Regions from separate parts of the Homo sapiens genome. Here region 2 is linked to region 1. Evidence: fine-mapped expression QTL. A gene starts in region 1. The other region holds a variant in brackets. All regions are shown on one strand. Distances are between the middles of the regions. Region 1 holds the start of TOB1 (transducer of ERBB2, 1). Region 2 holds the start of LOC124904102.

Region 1 (15,682 bases):
TATTATTTTTTTAACCAAGCTTGAATGTATCCTTACTATAAGCTTAAAAAAAAAAATTCTCAAGGAGGTGAAAAAAAAAATCCCCCTTGGGCCCGTGCATTTTAACTTGTACGATACATTTTCTTTTTTTTAGTTAGCCATAACAGGCTGGAATTGCTGGTTAGAATACTGCATGTTATTTAAGCTAAAATTCAAGCCATCTACAAAAGATTTCTCATTGAGGCCTCCATAGGCTGCAAACACATCAAAGGCATTACTGTACTGGAGAGGACTGAGGTTAAGGGGGCTGTCACCTGGGAACATTCCATTGGTACTACTACCTTGACCCTGCATATTAGGAAAAATAAATTCCTTGGCATTAGGAGAAAGAGCAGAGGTTTTCTGCTGTTGTTGCTGCTGTGGTGGTGGTGGTGGCGGTGGCGGCTGGGCTGGCTGCTGCTGTTGCTGTGGCTGCTGCTGGCTACCCAAGCCAAGCCCATACAGAGAGTGCATTGAGGAAGAGATGGCTTTCTGCTTCAAGAGGTCATTCACATTCAAGCCGAGGTTGATGGGAGAAGTACGTGCAACCTTGTTGCTACGGCCACTATTCTTCATTTTGGTAGAGCCGAACTTGGTGGCAGCAAAAGTGGCAGTGGTAAAGGTTAAAGGCTGAGTGGACCGGGGCATGAAGGTAGGGCTTACAGCAGCAGAGTGACCAAAAGGAGGCGATGGAGAGCTGGACACTGATGAGGCTGGGTCACTTATGGGCATAAAAACCTGGGCCTCTGGGTTAAAGCTGTTTTTGATCTCCTTATCCAACTCACATCCATTTTCATTATTATCATCCACGTAAAGCACCTTCACTGGTCCCTTTTCACCAATTTGGTAAGAAACCTCAAATGGGTCGATCCAAACACTAAGATCCTGTGGCAGATTGCCACGAACATCATCAATGTCCAAACCACTCTCTTTGGATGCTTGTTCAATCACTGGGTCCACTTTCTCCCCTATGTGTATACATCTAAACCCCGATCCTTTGTATGGCTTTTCAGGATACCAGTGCCCTTCATATTTCTTCTTAAGAAGTCTTTCAAGTTCTTCACCAAAAATGTTGACACGTCTCCTGGGAAGCTTATTGTACAAATACGAAATAATAAAATTTAGTGCTACTTGGATTTCAAGCTGCATAGCTGCTACGCCACAAAATTAGGTTTCAACTCCCCCACCAAAAAAAAAAAAAAAAAAAAAAGATGTTCAGTTTGTGGCAGAGAAACAAATTTTCATTCAAAGTGCTGGTATTAGTAGATTATCCTTCACCTTGAGTGATCTTGTTCCTTAAAACAAAAGCAAACATATCCAAATAAGATAAATGTAATATAAGTCCCATGACCTTCCCCCCTCCAAAGTAATTTCACCTTTCAAAATGTCTAAGATCCTGTGTTAGTCTGCTAAGGATAAAAAGAAAAAGAAAATGTCTACTAGGACAGAAAGCCTGAAAACTGTTACTAGCACAAAATAAACATAAAATAGAAAATCGTTTATTAAAGTTTAAAATGACACAGGAAAATGTAGATTTACAAATGAAATAATGCTTTTAAAAACCTGTTTCTGAATAGAGTTCTAAGAAGAAAAATCTCTAGAACATGCATTCTTCTCTCCTCAGTTCTCACAAGAATATTTATTGTACTCAGCATCCTCCCCCCACCCCCATATATATAGATGCCACTTTTAGGTAGTAATTTTTATTGTTATTCACCAACTTAGAAGTGAATCCATGTTTTAGTTTACTTTGGATATATACTGTTTAAATCTGCTCTGTCACTGACATTTAAAAATTTGGTTACGTTAGGAAGATCATTTTAATTTCCATAGTACATGATGCTAAAATTAAAGACACTGAGTACTAAATGAACTTCATCCTAGTAAATAATTATGAACCAAATTATTCTATATAGTTTCGGCCTTAAGTATACTAAGAGCATACAATATAATAAAATCCAGCTTCTCTGGGCCTTTTGTTTTCAATGTGTATTTTTCTAAATCTGAAAATACCTATTCGGCAGCAAGTATAACAAAAGCAAAGACACAAATTAAAACTATTGATTATTCTGTTTAAGGCCAGGGTTTCTGAGTTTTAGTCTGATTTTAAAAAACCTCCGTCTGTCCCTCTCTCCCTCCCTCCCTCTCACGGTAACAGCCGGAGAGGCAAGTATGGTAAGGTCGACCTTTAAACGTTTGCTGGATCAGCACTGGGTGGGGATAAGAAAAGATCAAGGGCAAACAGAAGATATTTGCGAAAGGGATCTATTTGCACACTGAAGTTGATTTAAAAGTACGTTTAAAAATCAAGTTGGTCTTAATTCGTCTGTTCTATTTTCCATATTCGTGGTGACAAAGGGAAAAAGAATCTCTGGCTGCCCCCAAACTACAAACACTTTCCAAGTCAAAAGCCTGAGTGCCGGCAGAGGCAGCTGATTAAGCCCAATTGCTTGAAGGTGCAGCCGAGCGAAATTCAGGCTCGGTGGAAGGTAGTTACAAAGCAACGCCTTAAGACAGGCAGGAGTGTGAAGAATTACATAAACAGCCAGTTAGATCTCATTAGATTTCTGCTCACAGCCCTCGGAGCCCAAGCGCTACAGCAGCAGCAACAGCAAGAGGAGGTGGAGGTGGAGGAGGAAGAGAGTACGAGCCTCCTCGGAGAAGGAGGAGGAAGGCCCGGGAAATGGAAGAGCAACCTCTCCCGGCTGGGCACCCAGCACCGAGCAGGTCGGGGCGCCGGGTCAGCCGCTCCCCTCCCCCGCCGTAACCCGACCCGCTGCTCCCCGCCCCGTGGCCCCCGCCCCGGGCTCCTGGGAGCCGGCCAGAGCCTGGGGGAGCACCGGTTCCTCGGCACCATTTTCAGCCTCGCGGCCACCGGCCCCTCGAACCCCAGCGTTCCACCGCGAGCTCGTCGCTCCTCCGGGCACCCCAACCCCCCAATTCCCGTCAGCTCGCCCCGGGCCGCCCGTCCCCGGCCAACTGCCCAGGACGAGCCCGACGCGCCGGCGGCCCCTCGGAGCCGCTCCCCTCGGGTCCTGGCGCTGCCCCCTCGGCGCCCAGGGCCGCGACCCCGCCGTCCCCGAGCTCCCGAGGGCCCAGGGCTCGACGCCGCTGCAGCCCCTCCTCCGCCGCCTGGGCCCGGGGCTCCCGTCTCCTCGCCGACCCCGCCCGGCGCCCCGAGATACTTACGGGCTGCTTCGGGGCGGCTTGGACCACAGACCCGCGGCTGGGCGGGGAGCAGCGCGGCAGGGCGGGGGCGCGGGAGGGTCGGGAGCGGCGAGCTCGCCGAGTGCAAGACGTTGCCGCTGCGGGGCTGAGGACAGAGGACAGAGGCCTCGGGCAGGCCTTGGGAGATCGCCGTTAGTGGCTCGGGGTGGCGGGCACGGGGGTCAGACGAGCGCGCTCACTTCTCCACACAGCCCGGTGCCCGGCCCAGCGTCCCCGTAGTGCGCCCGCTACACGCCGGGCCAGAGCTTCGCTCCTTCTGCCGCGGCGCGCGCCCCGCCTCTCGTTTTATGGCCTCCTCCCCGCCCCCATCCCCTCCGTCGGGGTGCGCGCGCCCGCTCCGCGTCACACAGCTCCGGCGGCGCAGCCATTCCCCGCGCTCCCCGCCCGGCACCCCGGTCCCCCGCCGGCCGGCTCCGCCCCTGCCCTGCCCCCCGACGCCATTGGCCAAGTCCCGCCTGCCCCTGTCCGGACGCGCGGCGGACGCAGGGGTGGGGAAGCCGCACCCTCCGGGCTCCAGGAGGGCCAATGAACCGACGATCGGAGCACTGGGGACGGAATGAAGAGAACGTCTGGAAAGGGACTGTGGGGGCAGACGTGCCAATGAGAGAGAAAGGGGTGGGGTAGGGCGGCTGACGCCCGGTTTAGGCGGAGAGCGCCGGGCAGAGGGGGAGGGGGACGAAGCTGGTGGCGAAGCGGCTCAGGAGAACCGGGGCTGGAGGAGCGGCAAGAGTACCCAGAAAGTGCCCTCTCCGCGGGGGTCTGCGGCCAAGGAGGATCCTGCTCGTGGAATAGCTACCAAATCGGCCTCCAGCCCACCCCAGGGGCGGGGTAGAGAAAGGGCAAACTGTGACCGGGACTTGTGCACCCGATTAATTGAATATTAATCACCCCAAGGCCTAGGCCAACCGCCACCCAGAGAGTGGCAGCTGCAGAACCCAAAGACGTGGAGCCGGGCTGGGGGTGGGGAAGGGAGGCCGCCACAGCTCCCGCCCCGCCGGCAGTTTAACTGCTTCCGCAGCCTCAGGCCTCCCGGTGCGACCCCGGCTGCGACTCGGATCCGTTTATTCCAAATGTCCCAGCCCACGCCGTGCCCAGAGTGTGGCGACACGAGGCCAAACTGCGTATGTATCTGTGTCCATGTCTACACACACACGCATGCGTGCATTTCTAGGGCTTGCTGGATCGCAGGTGCACAGAATAAACGCGGTGCCTGCTTGTAAAGCGCGTTTAAGATCATTCTTGGCTGAAATATGTGCGGGTACCTAGGGAGTGGGGTAAGAGAGGGACTCGTGGTGGGGGGCGGGTAAGTGCCTTTTTCACAACCTGCCCCAGAGAAATACACGAAATTACATCGGGAGTGGAATCGAGCGTCCCTCTCAGCTAAAAATATTACTCACAGGTAGCAACGACGCCTGATTGGCTGCGCTGGTCCCTTCGCAACGAGGCGATTGGCTGCCTGGTATCCAGGAGACCGACGTCAAACTCGGACTGGGAAAAGGGGAAAGTCTGGGGGGAGCGAAGGAGGGGACGGGGAGAAAGAAGCAATGAATGAAACGCCCATCGCCTGGCCTTCCCCTTTCCCCTTTCCCCTCTCCTCTCCATTCTTGGAGCACTTCCTGGAAAAACACCAGTTGGGGCGCCGCCTTCCCCTCCAAACGTTGGGGCCTGCACTCTCAACCTGCTATAAGGAAGTTAAACCGCAGCTCACCGAGGAGTAGGGTGTCTACGGGGCGGGCCCGTGTAGACCAGCTGTGCTCCTCGGGCACAAACCCGCCGTACATGCCAGGCCTAGAAGCTTTTGGCTTTGTGGACGCAAAATCTGGTTGGAGCCGCCTTCTCCACCCTGACTCTCCCGCCTCTCCTTTTTAGAAGGAACCGCACTGAGAAAGGGTATTTCTGAAGGCTCAATGCGTAGGAGAAGGGGTGGGAAGATGGGTTTGTGGAATGGGCTGAGGGTGGGGAGTGGTCAGGTGACTGATTTCATGTTTATTGTACAGATTCCTAAAACATAGTTTTACTAAGTGACTCCTTAAATTCTGATTAATGTGATTTTTTTTTTTTTTTGAGTGTTTGGGTTTTTTAGTTGCAAACAGGAGTGGAATTGAAATGTGAAAGTATGGCAAAACTGTGAAAGCATTTAAATTAAAATGTCCCTTCCTCTGCATTGAAATGTCATCAAAGCGTCAAATATAAATGATTTGTTCAGTTTTCTTTTTTTATTTGTTTGTTTTTGGTTTTCTGTAATGACAAGTCCATCTGTAATAAAAGTGAGTTATTTTTAGTTTTCTAATTAAGCACAGAAATTTCAAGAAACTAGACAGGATATCCTTGGAATGCCTTACCAAAAGAAACACTTCATTTTTCACGTGTTCTAGAAGCACAACTTCTTTTACCATTAGGCAAATAATGGTACTGTACCAAACATCTAGAACTGCGGGACCATGTGTCTTGATTAGTAATTTTATATTGGGGGGGCATATTAGGCATGGCTGAGACTAAAATGTCTAAAGATAGATGAATTGTAATTTTGTCAAACTTATCTGTACTTTTCAATAATTCTCTAAAGAGAAGGGACAAGTTCTCTTTTCTGAATGTCTTCAATCTGTAATTCCAGATTTGAAATATGAGAGCAGTCATCTGATAGGTACTGATTAAATATCAGTAGCATTAAAAGCATTTTTAAGTCAGAAATGTAGATGTCAAAAATTTATGAGTTATTGCTGCTTGGCCTAGGAGTGTAAGAAGATGTCTGACCAAATATAAACACACACACACACACCACACAAACAACACACACGGAGGCCCCATGGCATACTGGAAAAAGCAATGAAGGGTGGGTACTGGGAGGTCTGAGTTTCACACCAGTTTCAATAAACTTTTAGTTTTCTCACCTATAAAAAGGGTTGAATTAGATCATATCTAATGTCTCCTTCAATTAAAAAAAAATTCCACACTTGGCTGGGAGCAGTGGCTTACGCCTGTAATCCCAGCACTTTGGGAGGCTGAGGCAGGCAGATTACCTGAGCTCAGGAATTTGAGACCAGCCTGGCCAACACGGTGAAACCCCGTCTCTACTGAAAATACAAAAATTAGCCGGGTGTAGTGGCACACGCCTGTAATCCCAGCTACTTGGGAGGCTGAGGCAGGAGAATTGCTTGAGCCTGGGAGATGGAGGTTGCAGTGCGCCGCGATCGTGCCACTGCACTCCTGCTGGCCGACAGAGCGAGACTCTCTCTCAAAAAAATAAATAAATAAAATATTCCGCCCTTAAAACTCAATGTTCCTAACATATATACTGCAGCTGTTCTTCAAATACAGATTGCAAGTCAGGGCGCGGTGGCTCTCGCCTGTAATCCCAGTACTTTGGGAGGCCAAGGTGGGTGGATCATCTGAGGTCGGGAGCTCGAGATCAGCTTGACCAACATGGAGAAACCCTGTCTCTACTAAAAATACAAAATTAGCCTGGCATGGTGGCGCATGCCTGTAATCCCAGCTACTCGGGAGGCTGAGGCAGGAGAATCACTTGAACCCGGGAGGCGGAGGTTGCGGTGAGCTGGGATCGCGCCATTGCACTCCAGCCTAGGCAACAGGAGCAAAACTTCGTTTCAAAAAAGAAAAAAAATACATATATATGGATTGCAAATAAAAGGGAAAACTGATTCACATCTCTGAACATTGCCAGTCACGAGGTATAAAATGTTCTTTATCCAAGTTCTGCATATGGCTTATTATTATCTAACATTTACTTTGGAATTGTGCAGGGGAGTGGAGGGCTAACTGCTAATTGTGCAGGGAATTAGACTTATGGAGGAAAAAAGAATTTGATATTAGGCTCCAAGTGTATCACAATCAAGAGGTATTCCTCTCTCTGAGCAAATAACAGTCACTAGAAACTACAGCCTTTGCCTTTCACATCCCTACATTCTACACAATTCCCAGTGGGCCCTTACAATAAAGGTAATCGTTTGGTAAAAAATAACTTCCAATATCTTCATAAAATACAGTTCTTGAAAGTGCCTTGAATTATTACCTAATCCACACAAGAACACACACATGCAACACCTTGATTTCTGAGATAGAGACATCCTAAGTTTTCTAATTCTTAATATGCTTCCTTGTAAATTGAGAAAGGGTTACAGGAGAATAGCTATCACATGGTGTATAATTATTAATACTCATTTTACTTCTTTTTTTTTTTTTTTTTTTTTTTTGAGACAGAGTCTCACTCTGTCGCCAGGCTGGAGTGCAGTGGCACAGTCTTGGCTCACTGCAACCTCTGCCTTCCGGGTTCAAGTGATTCTCCTGCCTCAGCCTCCCAAGTAGCTGGGACTACAGGCATGCGCCACCACTCCCAGCTAACTTTTGTATTTTTAGTAGAGATGGGGTTTCACCATGTTGGCCAGGATGGTCTCTATCTCTTGACCTCGTGATCCGCCCGCCTCGGCCTCCCAAAGTGTTGGGATTACAGGCATGAGCCACCGCACCCGGCCGACTCATTTCACTTCTAAGGAATCAACCTTTTACCTTTATTTGAAAATAAGACAGGCAGGGCAAGGTGGCTCACATGCTCGTAATGCCAGCATTTTAGGAGGCTTGAGGCGGGAGGATCCCTTGAGCCGAGGAGTTCGAGATCAGCCTATGCAACACAGTGAGACCCCTATCTCTATTTTATTTAAAAAAAAAAAAAAGGCGGGAGTGGTGATGCACACCTGTAGTCCCAGCTACTTGGAAGGCTGAGGTGGGAGAATCTCTTGAGACAAGGAGGTGGAGACCAGCCTATACAGCATAGCGAGGCCGTTTCTATTTTATTTTCTTTTATTTTTTAAAAATTAGCCGGGCGTGGTGGCGCACACCTGTAGTTCCAGCTACTTGGAAGGCCGAGGCAGGAGGATCTCTTGAGACCAGGAGGTCGAGGCTGCAGTGAGCAGTGATCGTGCCACTGCACTCCAGCCTGAGCAACAGAGGGAGGCCTTGTCTCAAACTAACAACAACAAAAAAACCCCATAATGTTCTTATTGTGATTTTTATTTATTTCTTTTTAAACGGTCATGCAACATAAATCATAGCACACACATTTTAAAATTATTATTAATTTTTTTTGAGACAGAGTCTCGCTCTGCGCCCAGGCTGGAGTGCAGCTCACTGCAGCCTCCCGGGTTCAAGTGATTCTTCCACCTCAGCCTCCCGAGTAGCTGGGATTACAGGCACCCGCTATCATGCCCAGCTAATTTTTGTATTTTTGTAGAGACAGGGTTTCACCGTGTTGGCCAGGCTGGTCTTGAACTGCAGGGATTACAGGCGTGAGCCACTATGCCTGGCCTAAAATTAATTTTTTAAATCATGCTCTAGTCATTGAGTTATTGAAAACCAAGTAAACCAGTTCTCTTCTAAACATTTCTCAAAAAAAGGCAATCCAGTTACGTCTGAGGAAACCTCAGTGTGGTTTCCTGTGGCTTTTCACATGGGTTTGTAGTGGAGGGCTATATAGTCTCCAGAAGACACTGGCACACAGACATTTGTAATTAAAAGATAACTAGATAATGTTGAACAAGCCTACTAAAGCAACGTGGTCTGATAGGAGAATGTTTCCTTATAATTTGCTCACTTTCTATTATCTTGATGAACAAAATCCAAACCAAATCTTGCAATTTCTTTCCATTAGCCGAGGAGGAAGATTTTGATTTCAGTAAAGAGATTATAGTGCGGGTTCTAGGAGTGATACGGTGTTCATGACATTCTAAGTACAAAGAACATTTATATAAAGTACTCTGAGAGCAAATGTTATTAGAGTACTTTAAATACATTTAAAGCATGGGTTGCATATGTTATTATGCAGCTCTGCTTACTAAAATAGAATGTGATTTTATATATATAACCAATTGTGGCAGACACTGTTGCCAGCTCACCCGTTTCCCATGCCCCATCCTCATTCCCTTTTCTTCCTGACTAAAGAGGCTAGAAGAGCTAAATGCATGTTTTCCCAGGCTTCATTGCAGTAGAGGTGGCACTGTGACACTGTTCTGCAGATAAGATGTAAACAGAAGTCAGCTGGGATGGTTTCTGAGGGTGCTATGCTTTTCCTATCAGAGAGGTTTGTTCTAGTTACTATTGCTGCATGAAAAACTATCCAAAACACGCATTTACTGTGGCACAAAAGGTCAATTTTATTATACCCTTGGATCCTGTAGGTAAGAAATTCAGGCTTGGCCTGGTGGCTCACACCTGTAATCCCAGCACTTTGGGAGGCCAAGGAGGGCGGACCACTTGAGGTTAGGAGTTCGAGACCAGCCTGGCCAACATAGCAAAACCCCCTCTCTACTAAAAATACAAAAAAATTAGCCAGGCATGGTGGTTTGTGCCTGTAATCCCAGCTACTCAGGAAGCTGAGGCAGGAGAATGACTTGAACCCAGGAGGCAAAGGTTGCAGTGAGCCAAGATAGCATCACTGCACTCCAGCCTGGGTGACAGAGAGAGATTCCGTCTTAAAAAAAAAAAAAAATTCAGACAGGGCACAAGGGGATGGATAGCTTATCACTGCTCCATAGTGTCTGGAACCTCAGCTGGAAAGGCTCAAATGCTCAAGTATCATCTGAAGCAGGTCTAACAGAACTTCCTCCAGTGATGGGAATATGCCATATCCGTGCTGTCAAATATAATAGCCACATGCGGCTCTTGAGCACTTGAAATGTGGCCAGTGTGACTGAGGAACTGAATTTTTACTTTAATTTAGTTTTAATGAAATTTAGATTTAAATAATCACATGTGGACAGCAGCTTCTGAATTGGACAGCATGGACCTGGAAGCTTTTTCAAAGCACATGTCTAGCACCTGGGCTGCAGTGACTCAAGGGCTGGGCTTAGTTGGCACTGTTGTTTGGAGCGTTTCCACATGGCCTCTGAATTTCCCCTGTGGTTTGGGCTTCTTACAGCGTGGCAGTTGAGAGGAAGCAGAGCAGTTTCTGGAGAGTGAACTTTTTAAAAATTAAAACCATTTTTTTCAAGTTTTTTCTAGAGATAGGGTCTTGCTGTGTTGCCCAGGCTGGTCTCAAACTCCTGGCCTCAAACAATCCTCCTGCCTTGGCCTCCCAAAGCAGTGGGATTACAGGCATGAGCTACCATGCCTGGCCACCATGGAAGCTGCCACCATGGAAGCTGCCACCAAGGAAGCTGCATGGCCTTTTATGACCCAGTCTCATAAGTCACAATGCACCACTTCCATTACACCCTAATGGTCAAAGTAACCACCAGCCAGATTCAAGGGGAGGGGACATAACCACCACCTCTCATGGAGGAGTGTCAAAGAATTTGAGGCCATTTTTAAAAATCACCACTGGGTCACTTCTCTCTTCTTCCTGCCTTGAACATGGATCTCATGGCAGGAGCTGCAGCAGCTCCTACTGAATAAACCATGAATAAAACGCAAGTTAATCACAGGGACAGGGGTTCTCACCAATGCTAGTCACTGCCTAGGTCTGGTCCACTTTTTAACCGACATTAAGTGTTCCATGACTTGCAGCTGAAGTATTTCCAGCAAAAACACTAATTTTACATCTTTTAAGGAAACCTGAACTTGATTTTCAAAAAAGCCAAAATAAATTTTTCCTCTAATCTAAAATATCAGGGCTTCTTTCTCATTATAAAACCTGGAAATGCTCATTATAGCAAATTTGGAACACATAGAAATAAAGAAGAAAATAGCAATCATCTTTAATCTCTCCATGCAGTGCTAACCATCTTGCTCCATTTCTTTCTGAATGAGTTTCTATCACACACGCAATTTTCTATCCTGCAGTTCACTTAACATTACATTTTTCCTATTTTCTCCTGACATTAAGCATTTGTCACAATCATCATTTTTAATGACTGCATATTATATTCTACTCTATGGATTTAGAATAATTTATTTAACCATCGCTGGGCATCTAAGTTGTTGAAAATGTTTCTGTATTAAAAACAAACATATTTAACAGGCATTTTTATATGTAAATCTTTAGCTACCTCTCTATTTCCCTGAGCTAGATTCTATAAGCAAACTTAGCGAGTGGAAGAGAAGGAATATTTTTTAAGGCTGGTAACATAATGACAATCCACCTTCCAGAGAGATTGTACTTTTTTACCTTCCCAGAGGATACGCACTGCAAAATCACTACATTTTTAGCCAGCGTTGCCTACTAAAAAATTTTTTTCTATCCTTGGCTAATTTGGTAGGTAAAATGATATCTGTTGTTTAATTTTTATTTCTTTGATTACATGTAGGATGAATAGAGTTTGACATGTTTGTCAGCTCGTTGTACTACTGTTTTTATAAATTTTTTATCTATGCCTTTTCTCCATGTTTCTCTTAGAGGTCTTTGTGTTTTGCTTCAATTTGTATGAGTATCTTGCATATTGTGTACAGATACGTGGCTGAAGAGGATCCTGGTCATAAACCTCACTCTAGAACTTGCCCAAACATTTTAAACATGTGATTTTGATGCCTAGAACCTTGCTTTTCAATCTACTGTTTCACTTTATAAGGTCCTGACTAACTCCTGGGTTATCCATAAATGCTTAAAAAAAAAAAAAAAGCAAGCCAGGTACAGTGGTACCTATAAGCCTAGCACTTTGGGAGGCTGAGATGGGAGAGAGGATCATTTGAGGCCATGAGGTTGAGACCAGCCTGGGCAACATAGCGAGACCCCTGTCTCTACAAAAAAAATAAAAATATTAGTAGGGTGTAGTGGCAAGCACCCGTAGTCCCAGCTACTAAGGAGGTTTGAGGTGGGAGTATCCCTTGAGCCCAGGAGTTCCAAGCGGCAAGTGATCATTCCATAGCACTCCAGCCTGGGTGACAGAGCAAGACCTTTTCTCAAAAACAAACAAACAAACAAAAACAGTTCTAATCATTTTTACTTAGGCCTCTGTCTTCTTGACCTTTCTGTCACATTTCACACTGTTTACTAATAACTACTTCAAATATTTCCTTTTGACTTTTAAGACTTTGCCCATTGTATTAACATTGGATATCCTAACATGGCCCCCACTTCCTATCTCAGCTGCAGTGGAGCAGAGAAGAAAAATTATGAATTCAAAATTAGAGAATTTGTGTTTGGGTCTTGCCACCTGGTATTAGTTGGGTATGGCTACTCTGAGTCTCAGCCCTCATCTTATAAATAATTAGAAGCAATAATTACCCTCAGAGTTGTGTGAGAATCAATTGAGGTGACACCTGTGAAAACGCTCTATGAACCGTCAAGCCCCCCATAAATGTGAATATTTTCTTCCTTCCTCTCCCCCTCCCTCTTCCCCTCCTTCCCTACTTTCTCCTCCTCCTCTCCTCCTTCTCTTCCTTCTCTGCTTCTTACATCTGGCAGAAATTCAAGTACCATTTGATTCAGCTCAAGTAAAAATACATGTGAAATTGCTTTTAAACTACAAACAAGTATTATTAACACTCTCTTCTGTCAGATACAGTGTTGCCAACTCAGTCCTTTTCACCTTCAAAAAACCTCTCAGAATCCCATGGCTTGATGTTTTATATTATTATTTAATTATTAGTTTATTTAGCCTTCCGTGTGTTTATGTCCTAGCCTTTGTTGGATTCCAAGCTTTTTAAGAGCAGAAAGCATGTACCTTTACACGAGCTTTATAGTGCCTTGCAGTCAATCAGTATTGACTGATGGCTTTGCTAGGTCGCTGCTTAATCCAATGAAAGAACACAGAATATTTGAGGAAGGGTAAGTGGCTCAGAGTGGCTGCTGTGGATGGTTCAGAGGTGAGAATCTAGAGAGGAGGCTGGTTGGTAGGCAGAGGCCAGATTACCAAGGGAGGAAATCTGGAATTTTGCCTTTAACAGACGGGAAGATGTTGGGTGATTTTTCAGTTGGGAAATGACATTATTGGAATTCTGTTTGGAGCACATTTTATTTATCTCTAAATGCCCCAGAGCATAGTACATTACTTGATACTTAGGAATTGCCCTGCCAATGTGTGTTCAATTGCTAGACGTAGTTTTATCACCCAATGGAATATTCTTCAATTGTTTGGTTGTTCTGAAGAAGAAATACTTACTGTCTTTTAAGGAAGATACAGACCCCACCTGGAGACCAATACTTCTATCCACTTGGGAACAAAAGGAAAAGTTTTGGCCGGGCGCGGTGGCTCAGGCCTGTCATCCCAACAATTTGGGAGCCTGAGGTGGATGAATCACTTGAGGCCAGGAGTTTGAGACCAGCCTGGCCAAGATGGTAAAATCCCATCTCTACTAAAAATACAAAAAGTAGCCAGCTGTTGTGGTGCGTGCCTGTAGTTCCAGCTACTTGGGAGGCTGAGGCATGAGAATTGCTTGAACCCAGGAGATGGAGGTTGCAGAGAGCCGAGATCATGCCACTGCACTACAGCCTGGGTGACAGAACGAGACTCTGTCACAAAAAAAAAAAAAAAGAAAAAGAAAAGAAAAGAAAAAATAAAAGATTATGTGGCAAGGTATTAAGTAAAAAAAACTTACGGTTTCTGAAAAAACTAAAACCTTTCTGTAGAAAATTCTACTGTGGTACCAGGAGGGTTGATTACTTCCACCTTTCCTTGTTGTTAGCCTAGACAACATCTGTTCCCCTTTCTTCCAGCAACAGTTGCGATTTTTGTGTGAGAACCTATACCTCTCCCACCCTTCATCCAGGAGCTTCTAGTGAGACTTGCGATTTTTGTGTGAGAACCTATACCTCTCCCACCCTTCATCCAGGAGCTTCCAGTGAGACTCTTGACAAGGCAAAAGCCAGCGAAAGCATCACATTCTCCTAACTACTGTGATGGGTTTAGGGATGGCTGATCAGAGCCAATAACTCAATTCTGGGACTTCTGTCTGAGGTCTTGGGATAAGGACTCTTTCCCATGAAATATGAACCTGGAAGTATTCATTGTTGAGGCTCCCAGGGCCATCTTAGTACCAAAAGGAGAGAGCCTGTCAGAGAATGTAGCTAACCCAGGTAAAACCAAGAAAAACCAAGTCCTGGAAACAGCCTTTTGAGCAGCCCTTGAATCAACTTTACCTGGACTTTCAGCTACAGGCTGTCTTAGCATAGGTTCCTAAACAAGCAGAGCCCAAGGCAAAGGGCTTTGCGCTACCACTTTATTTTTTATTTTTATTTATTTATTTATTTATTTATTTATTTATTTATTTATTTCGCTCTGTCGCCCAGGCTGGAGTGCAATCGTGCTATCTCAGCTCACTGCAACCTCCGCCTCCCGGGTTCAAGCGATTCTCCTGCCTCAGCCTCCTGAGTAGCTGGGATTATAGTCGCGTGCCACCACCCCAGCTAATTTTGTATTTTTAGTAGAGATAGGGTTTTGCCATGTTGGTCAGGCTGGTCTTGAACTCCCGATCTCAGGCGATCCACCTGCCTTGGCCTCCCAAAGTGCTCGGATTACAGGTGAGAGCCACTGCGCCTGGCCTTATTTTATTTTATTTTTTTTGAGATGGAGTCTTACTCTGTCCTCAACCAGGCTGGAGTGCAGTGGTATGATCTCAGCTTACTGCAACCTCCGCCTCCCAGGTTCAAGGGATTCTCCTGCCTCAGCCTCCCTAGTGGCTGGGATTACAGGTTCCTGCCACCACGCCCAGCTAATTTTTGTATATTTAGAAGAGACGGGGTTTCACCATGTTGGCCAGGCTGGTGTCGAACTCCTAACCTCAGTTTGCTACCACTTTAAGAGGGAGTGAAATCCCAGGAAGCAGGAGAGAGGGGCAAAGAGAGTAAAACAGCAAAGGAGGAGAACCTATTTCAGGTTGCGTTATTAAACCAATTGCTGTTAAGTAAAATTGCTTGATTCCATGGATTAGTCCTCCAAGAAGCCCTATAAACTGTATCCCTTTATGTGAGAAAAGAAAGGGGAGAATTCATCCATTGGTTCCCATCTCCCACTGGTCAAATAATTTATGCCATGTTGCATAACTGTATTGCATGGGTGTGTGTCCTGTCTCTCCAAGAGGCCTGCATTGTCATGAGAGCAGGCCAGTAGCTTCTACTGCCCTGTGCCTACACCATCCACAGAATGCTTAGTAAATATTTGACTGAACTGACTTTTCATAAAGTTCAGCATTCTGCTATTTGATCATTTGCATCCCAATGAGTTTTCCCCAATTTGTGCTGTTTTATTAACCTGTTAAATGTTATCATTTGAGTGGTACTTACACAATCAATTGCCAGCTGATTTCACATACTCAGTGGCATTTGGATTCTAAAGCCAAATCATTATCCTTCTATTCTCAATATGGTTAAAATCAAAAAATGTTAAATGACATGTAAACTAGCTCCAAGAGATTCGATGTTGACCAACACAGGGATTCCAGAAACTAAGAATGGAGAGACCAAGGGGAAGGAAATAACTAAAGAACTCAGAGAAGAAAAAATTGATGTATCAGTTAAGTAATAATTAAAGTTTTGGCTAACATAATTAAT
Region 2 (8,000 bases), 75 kb after region 1:
ATGGGAAGGACACCGGGCGCAGTGGCCCACGCCTGTAATCTTAGCACTTTGGGAGGCCAAGGTGGGCGGATCACTTGAGGCCAGGAGTTCGAGACCAGCCTGGCCAACATGGTGAAACCCTGTCTGTACTTAAAATACAAAAAATTAGCTAAGCGTGGTAACGTGCACCTGTAATCCCAGCTACTCGGGAGGCTGAGGCAGGACAATCACTTGAACCCGGGAGGCAGAGGTTGCAGTGAGCCGAGATCGTGCCATTGCACTCCAGCCTCAGTGACAGAGTGAGACTCTGTCTTAAAAAAGAAAAAAAAAAGAAACATGGGAACATGGGAAGGAAATTCACCAAAACCTCTGCGAGCGAATGACTCCTTTCTCCCAAATCTGTAATTTTACCATGTCTTCCCCAATCCATTCCTCACACCTTCCTGATGCCTCCTCTTCCCCCATTCCCCAGAGCCTGCTATGCCCCAGGTCCTTCCAGGACACCTCTTTTATTTTTATTTTTTAATTTTTGAGATAGAGTGTTGGTCTGTTGCCAGGCTGGAGTGCAATGGCATGATCTCGGCTCACTGCAACATCCATCTCCCAGGTTCAAGCGATTCTCATGCCTCAGACTCCCAAGTAGCTGGGATTACAGGTGCCCACCACCACACTCAGCTAATTTTTGTATTTTAGTAGAGATGAGGTTTTGCCATATCGGCCAGGCTGGTCTTGAACTCCTGGCCTCAAATGTTCCACCTGCCTCGGCCTCCCAAAGTGCTGGGATTACAGGCGTGAGCCACCGCACCCAACCCAGGACACCTCTTAAACATCTCTCCTCTCTCCGGCCCACTGCCTTGGTGCTTATCAGCTCAGGGACCCCAGTGGTCTCAGGGTTTGCTCTCATCACCACAAGGCAGTTTCCACAGAGATCCAGAATGATCTTGCTAAAAAAGCACGTCTGATCTGCTCACTCCCAGGCTTAACCCCCTTCATTGGCCCTCAGGATTAGGTCCAGAGTCCAGAGCCATCTGCCCCTACCCTGTCTCCACGCTCCTGCTCCCTCCTGGGCTCCTCCTGCTGAGCCTCCTGTCTGACTCAGCCACATACCTGCCGCCAGCCCCTTGTGCCCACAGCACCTGCTCCTCCTCTCTCAGCCCTCTTCTTACTTGATTGTGATGCATTGTGTTACTGCCATCCAGACTGCCCATTTCGAGTTCCCGTGTGCAGCCTGCCTGGACGGAGGCCTTAGCCTCTGCCCTGAGTCCCGGTTGCATGGGAAGTCCTCTGGGTCTCAGTTTGGATGTTTGTGGGTGAGGAGCAGCTGCGGTGGGTAAGGGGTGGCTGATGAGGATCACGGGGTGTGCTGAGACTCCCTGGTCCTTCCCTCAGTGACGCCCCTGCTGTCGCCACTTGTCCCCAGGCTCTAGAAGAACTGGGTCTCTCTCTTGTCCAGTATCTGCCAGGGAAGAGGCTCTTAGGCTCTTATCTGTTGAATGGTTGAATGGGTCACTCTAAACAGCAGCTGTAAATAATGTCCATCTTTTTTTTTTTTTTTTGGAGACAGGGGGCAAACTTTGTCACCCAGGCTGGAGTGCAGTGGTGCAATGGCTGACTTCAACCTCAACCTCCCAGCTTCAAGTGATCCTCCTACCTCAGCCTCAAAGTAGCTGAGACCACAGATTGCATCACCACACCTGGCTAATTTTTCTTTCTTTCTTTCTTTCTTTTTTGATATAGAGTCTCGCTCTATCCCCCAGGCTGGAGAGCAATGGCGTGATCTTGGCTTACTGCAACCTCTACCTCCCAGGTTCAAGCGATTCTCGTGCCTCGGCCTCCCAAGTAGCTGGGATTACAGGTGCCCACCATATCCGGCCAATTTTTGTATTTTTGTGGAGAGAGGGTTTCACCATGTTGGTCAGGCTGGTCTTGAACTCCTGGCTTCAAGTGATCCGCCCACCTCGGCCTCCCGAAGTGCTGCGATTACAGGCATGAGCCACTATCATTTTTTGTTTTTAAATAGAATGGAAAACAAAAACTTACCTTGAAAAATCATTCTTACTGAAATGATTAAAAAGTAACATTCCTGTATCTTCCAAAGCTGAGCAGACACACAGCCGGGCCCCGTCATCCCTGCCCTGGGTATTCACCCAACAGAAATGCATTCATATGTTCACAATACACAGGAACTAGAATGTTCATAGTGGCACTATTCACCATAGCCAGGAACTGGAACCTCCCCAAATGTCCATTAGCAGTAACATGGGTGAATACATTTTAACAGAGCCACACAATGGCAAGCCACCAGCAATGGGTACGAACAGCCCTTGACTGCCTGTGAGAGTACTGACAAACCTCACAAACATAATATGCAGCAAAAGAAACCAGACGCAAAACGGCACCCACTGTATGGCTCCATCTACACACAGTTCAGAAGCAGGCCAGAGCGCCTGCGGGCTGAGTCAGGAGAGAGGCTGGACTCGGGAACAGTAGGTGGAAGGGGTCTCGAGGGGCTTCTGGGTGCCGGTGAGGTGCTGTTTTTTAATTTGGGTGCTGGTTGCACAGGTATGCAAAGCATGTGCAAATTCTTTCAGTTGTACACTTTGATTTGTGCAGTGTTCTGTGTGTGTGCTTAACTTCAATTTTAAAAAGTCTTAAAAATAAAAGTCATGTCTCCTGGAGCAGGTTAAATCCACCTCCCTTTTCTATCCAAGGGCAAGTGGAGAGCAGGTGGCTGGCCTCCCTGGGGCACAACCACGTGTCCCCTCATGGGTGCTACCAGAGTCCCTCCCCAGCCTGAGACTCCTGAAGCCCCAGACTCAGGGATTTTCTTTCCACTAAGCTCTGGTAAGTCCCACCATCACAGACCAGGCCTGTGTCGGCCCCAGAAGCAGGATCAGTGTTAGCTGCAGCCTGGCCCTCACTGGCTGGGTTACTCCGGGCCTCCCTTGCCATCGGCCACCCCCAGGCTTGGCGCGGAGGCGCAGGCCGCCTGGGTCCTCGGGTTGTGTCCGCTGGCCTCCCTCCACCTTCTTGCCCCTGGTGGGAGATGGGAGTGGGGCTTGGAGGTGGGGAGGTGGGGCTGTCGGTGCTCCAGGGTCCCCGCAGAGGGCAGGGAAGCCCTGGACCTGGTCTGACCTTGCGCGCTAGCCCCAGAGGTCGCCGTGCTCTGCTGTCGGCGTTCAGGTGCCCGCGGTCGGGCCGGGGAGGGCAGTAATCAAGCCGGCCCGGCGGCTGGCGAGGGGCGCGGGTCCAGCGCGCTGCCCTCGGCCGCCGCCCTGAGCGGTTATTTATAACCGCGGGTCGCGTTACCTCCTGACCTTAAGCTGGGGCGGGCGATCCGCAGCGATTAGCATCTATCTCCTCCCCGCCGCCCGCTGCGAACAAACACCCCTCTGTGCGCCCTCCCCCGCCCGCCCCGCGGGAGGCCCTGCAGGAAGCAGGATGTTGACCCGGAGCCTCCCTGCGCTCCTGCGGCGGCCCCGCCACATGTGAGTGGCGGGCGGTGGAGTGCGGGTGGGGGGGAAG[C/G]GGGGAGCAGGAGCTACTCGTGTTTGATGGCTTCCCGAGTTGCCAATGTCCTGGTCTATTCTGAGTGACCGCCTTATTTACAATATAGGGCTCCCCAGCCCGTGTCTGCCCAAAGGGGTGCCCTCTCCCAAGCCAGTGGGGGCCAGCCAGCCCTGGTTGGGGCAGCACCTGCACAGGTGGTCCCAGAATCACAGGCTGCAAACCGCATCCTCCAACAGCCAGGCCGTCGTTGCTCGATGGCAGCTGAAGGCCATAGGGGAAGGTGGTTGCGTCGGGGTCCCACAGCCATCCACGGCAGACCCCGGCTCCTGCCTGATGGTTTTTCCCAACGGCTCCCAGAACTCTTGATTCTGGTCTGGAGAAGCCTCATGAAAGGAGGCTGGGGTCGCAAGATTGGCCCATTCATTCAACACATTTTTATTTTATGTATTTATTTTTGAGACAGGGTCTTGCTCTGTCAACCCAGGCTGGAGTGCAGTGGTGGGATCAAAGCTCACTGCAGCCTCAAACTCCCAGGCTCAAGTGAGCCTCCTGCCTCAGCCTGAGTAGCTAGGACTGCAGGTATGTGCCACCATGCCCAGCTAATTGTAAACATTTTTGTAGAGGTCTTGCTATGTTGCCCAAGCTGGTCTTGAACTTCTGGCCTCAAGCGATCCTCCTGCCTTGGCCTCCCAAAATGTTGGGATTACAGGCATGAGCCACTGCACGCCAGGACCATTCAAAACTTTTTTTTTTTTTTGAGTCGGAGTCTTGCTCTGTCGCCCAGACTGGAGTGCAGTGGTGTGATCTCAGCTCACTGCAACCTCCGCCTCCTGGGTTCAAGCAATTCTGCTGCCTCAGCCTCCTGAGTAGCTGGGACTACAGGTGCCCACCACCATGCCTGGCTAATTTTTGTATTTTTAGTAGAGATGGGGTTTCACCATATTGGCCAGGCTGGTCTCGAACTCCTGACCTTGTGATCCATCCACCTTGGCCTCCCAAAGTGCTAGGATTACAGGCATAAGCCACGTTGCCCAGCCTCAACAGCTTTTTTTTAAGGCACCTACTAGGTGCCAGGCACCTTTCCAGGCAAAAATCCTTATCCTGTGGAGCTGACAGTCCAAGGGAAAGAGAGTCCTTCCCTGGAGCCTAGGGCCCCATGATGGAGCCACAGTCTAGGCAGTTGCTGAGGGCCCTGATGGGTGAGTCTTAGGGAGGGAGACTGAGGCAGGGAGTGGGAGGGCCAGGCTTGTAGTGCATTGTGGGACTGCAGCCTGCGCTGGGTATTTGCTGAGCAAGGCCAAGGCTATGTGAGACACTAACATCCTGAGCCTGTGAAGGCTGAGGCCCAACAGTGGGTGTGCCCCCTGCCTAGCTTCAAATGACCTTGCACCCAGGGCAGAGGGTGAAAAGCTCACCCAGTCTTGGGCGTCATCCTGGAAGAACTCATGGAAGAGGACCCACTGAGTCAGGACATTTGAGGAGCGCATTGAGGGCGGAGGGAGCCTGGGCTGCCCGCCTTTCTGCCACGCTCTCAGACACTTGGAGGCGCTTGGGAGGAGTTTGCCTGTGTGACGTGACCAGCCCCTGACCACTCCTTGCCTTCTCTGGGCCTCAGTTTCCACAAATGAGCAGTGAAGGGGTTGGCTGAGATGAGGCGTTTCAAGTCTGGCCGCCTGTGCCTCTGATCTAGAGACCCCCCCCAGGCCAGAGACCCTCCCACCAGAGCCTGGCTCAGGCCAGGTGCATCTGCCTGATGCAGCCCAAGAGGCTGGGCCATGGTGGACCAGGAGTAGCTGTGGCCGTGGGTAGCTGGTGGTGCCCAACAGCTCACACCAGCGTATGAGGGAGTGGCACATACACATATGTGTGGGAGTCTGGTGTGCTGGGTGTGCCTCAGTAGGTAGGTGGCTGCCCAGGGGAGTGTGTGCTTGGCATGTGTTTACGAGGGGTGTAAGGAGTGTCTGCAGCAAGTGTGTAGGGGGTGGGCCACATGTGTGTAGGTCAGGTATGTATAGTTGGGGTGTGGGCGGATATTGGAGGAGTGTCTTAGTGGTCAGGGGGAGGCTTGAGGCAGGGGAGGAAGGCCTGGAGGGGCCACTCCCTCACTCTGCAAACCCCCCTCTGGCCACATGGTCAGCCTGTGGCCGATGCGCCCTGACCAGTCAATGAACTCAGGGTCTGGAAGAGTCAGCGGCTTTTCCAACCTCTTTGCCAAATGGGATGTCAGCATGGGGGCAGGGGTGGTGGGGGTGCAGGCTGGGGAAGGTGGCAATGACTTCATGACCAGACTACTGAGCAGGTGGGGAGAGGGGGCAGGGCGCTGGAGGCCGGCTGGGTGGGGGATCCACTCTGGGTGGGGAGGCAGCCCAGGCTCATGCTTCCTCAGGACCGCTGGATTCCCTTTGTGGGGAGGACCTCCTGGAGGGTCTGCAGGGGGCTCCCTTGGACTGAAAACCCTCCAGGGACTGTTGCATGGGGTCCCAATAAGCTAACAACAGCCCTGGAAGGTAAGGCCTCTTGTCCCTATTTGACAGATGAGGAAACTGAGGCTGGGAGAGGCAGCCACACAGCTAGAGTGAATGGTGAACTGGACTAGGAACATGGGTGGGCGTGTTTCCCACACTGCCCCACAGTGACACAGCGGGGGCGGGGACAGCCCTTAAAATCCGATCCTCCGCGAACACCTTGAATCCTCAAACCTCCATCCATCCAAAAGGGGCTCCGCCTTGGGGAGGCCCTTCGCACACTTCTCTACAATTTGAGGGGCCGTCGGCTGCAATAACCACATAGTGGGGCCACTACAAGTCAACAGAAGCAGACCCTCTCTCCAAAAACACAGCAGACCCTGTCTCCAACACAGACTAGGCCTAGTTCCGACTTCCAGAATGCCGTGGTCCAGCCCTGGCATTGCTGACTCATGGGGTCAGGCTGGCGTTGCTCCTCTGTGGGGCTGGAGGGGCCCCAGATCACAGACCTGGGGGTGGGTGTGAGCACTGTCTTCGTACCCAGAGGCTGAGGTCAGCTTTTGGGCTGCTCTTTCTTCAGCCATTTACTAGTTTCCCATCGTAATAATAACTACCCCTACCTAAGCTTTATAGCTCAGCAAGGACTTTCACAAACATTCTGTCACTCACACCACCCTTGCACCAGCCCTGTGATGAGGAGTTAATATGCCCATTTTATAGAACAAGAAGCTGAAGCTCAAGGAAGGAGGTTCTGGGACTCATCTCAGATCCCATGGCCAGGAAGCGGTGGCCACTCTGGAATTCTTGACCCTGCCCAGACCAGCACCTTCCACAGCAGAGACCCCCTCCAAGGAGCGGGCGACGTGTGACTTCCCCATGGGTGGACTCTGGGCTGCAGTGATCGGCTAGCGGTGCCATCTTTAGTCTGGGAGCTGTGTGAAGCCTGCTCCCCACCTTCCCCCTCCTGCAAATATTGGGGGAGGGGCATGGAGGACAGGAAGATAGAAGCAAAAGTGGCAGTGACCGGTGCATGAGAGATTGGGAGATACGTGCTGGGGAGGGGTTCCCCGGAGCAGAGCTGGCTGCCCTTGGCACTGGGCCCAGGCGGAGGAGTGGCAAGACCAACAGTTCCTGGAGCACAAGTCCCTCAGCCGGTGCCCAGTGCCAGCCATCGCCATGTTCTCATCTGCCAGCAGCAAAATGAGAAAAATAAGGACAATATAGTGAGGTTTTACTAAAGCTAGGTTTACTCAATCCAAAAGACTGTCCTTTTATCTGAGCTTTGTATTTTCAATCGTGTGTGTGTCTGTGTGTGTGTGTCTGTGTCTGTGTGTGTCTGTGTGTGTGAGCACAAAAGGACCTTTCCTTTGACATTTCCTTTTAATGACCTCAAACTCAGCAAAATAAAAAAACTGGTGACTAGCTGGTGTGGTGGCTCATGCCTGAAATCCCAGCACTTTGGGAGGCCGAGGTGGACAGATCGCTTAAGGCCAGTAGTCTGAGACCAGCCTGGCCAACATGGTGAAACCCCATCTCTACTAAAAATACAGAAATTAGCTGGGTATGGTGGCGGACGCCTGTAATTCCAGCTACTCGAGAAGCTGAGGCACAGGAGTCGCTTAAACCTAGGAGGCGGGGGTTGCAGTGAGCTGAGATGGCACCACTGCGCTCCAGCCTGGGTGACACAGCGAGGCTCTGTCGCAAAAACAAAACTGGTGACGACGTCAGATCCTAAATTTTTTTATTTTTTTGAAATGTTAGTGATGTGAGAAATCCGAAAGGCTGAGACCCACTGGGCTAGCTTGTACGTGGCTCTGGGTGAAACCTGGCACAGGGGGGCAATGTTTTTTAATTGAGGGATGAATCTAAACAGCTGGAAGCTTCTCCCGGGGGGAGGAGGGGCTGGGTTCTTGCCCAGACTCAGCCCCTGAGGCCCCAGCCTAGGCATCCCCAGGAAACCTGAGCAGAAGGAACATTCACGTAACTGTACTGGGAATTCTGAGAAGGGCCTAGGGGCCAGTTCCCCATGCCACACACCCTCTGCTCATC

Evidence for each region. PIP is the estimated chance that this variant, and not a neighbour inherited with it, causes the effect.
Region 2: its variant is fine-mapped to the expression of TOB1 in whole blood (TOPMed, PIP above 0.99).

What each region holds. Positions count from the first base shown.
Region 1 is chr17:50,862,851-50,878,532 of GRCh38, forward strand. TOB1 (transducer of ERBB2, 1) reads right to left here and starts at 3,504. Exons shown (of 2, transcript NM_005749.4): 1 at 3,208-3,504; 2 at 1-1,313. The coding sequence starts at 1,167. The coding sequence ends at 130. It overlaps TOB1-AS1 (TOB1 antisense RNA 1), which reads left to right and starts at 3,829. Exons shown (of 2, transcript NR_038458.1): 1 at 3,829-4,367; 2 at 4,646-5,521. RefSeq lists an enhancer at 2,120-2,169 and silencers at 2,710-3,319, 3,330-3,839.
Region 2 is chr17:50,941,378-50,949,377 of GRCh38, forward strand. It overlaps LOC124904102, which reads right to left and starts at 3,793. Exons shown (of 2, transcript XM_047437263.1): 1 at 3,673-3,793; 2 at 2,016-3,254. The coding sequence starts at 3,793. The coding sequence ends at 2,752. It overlaps LOC124904029 (a long non-coding RNA gene), which reads right to left. Exons shown (of 2, transcript XR_007065849.1): 2 at 7,676-8,000. RefSeq lists enhancers at 2,488-3,371, 3,372-4,254 and silencers at 3,205-3,264, 3,325-3,374, 3,385-3,444. The variant C/G (reference allele first, on the strand shown) is at 3,505.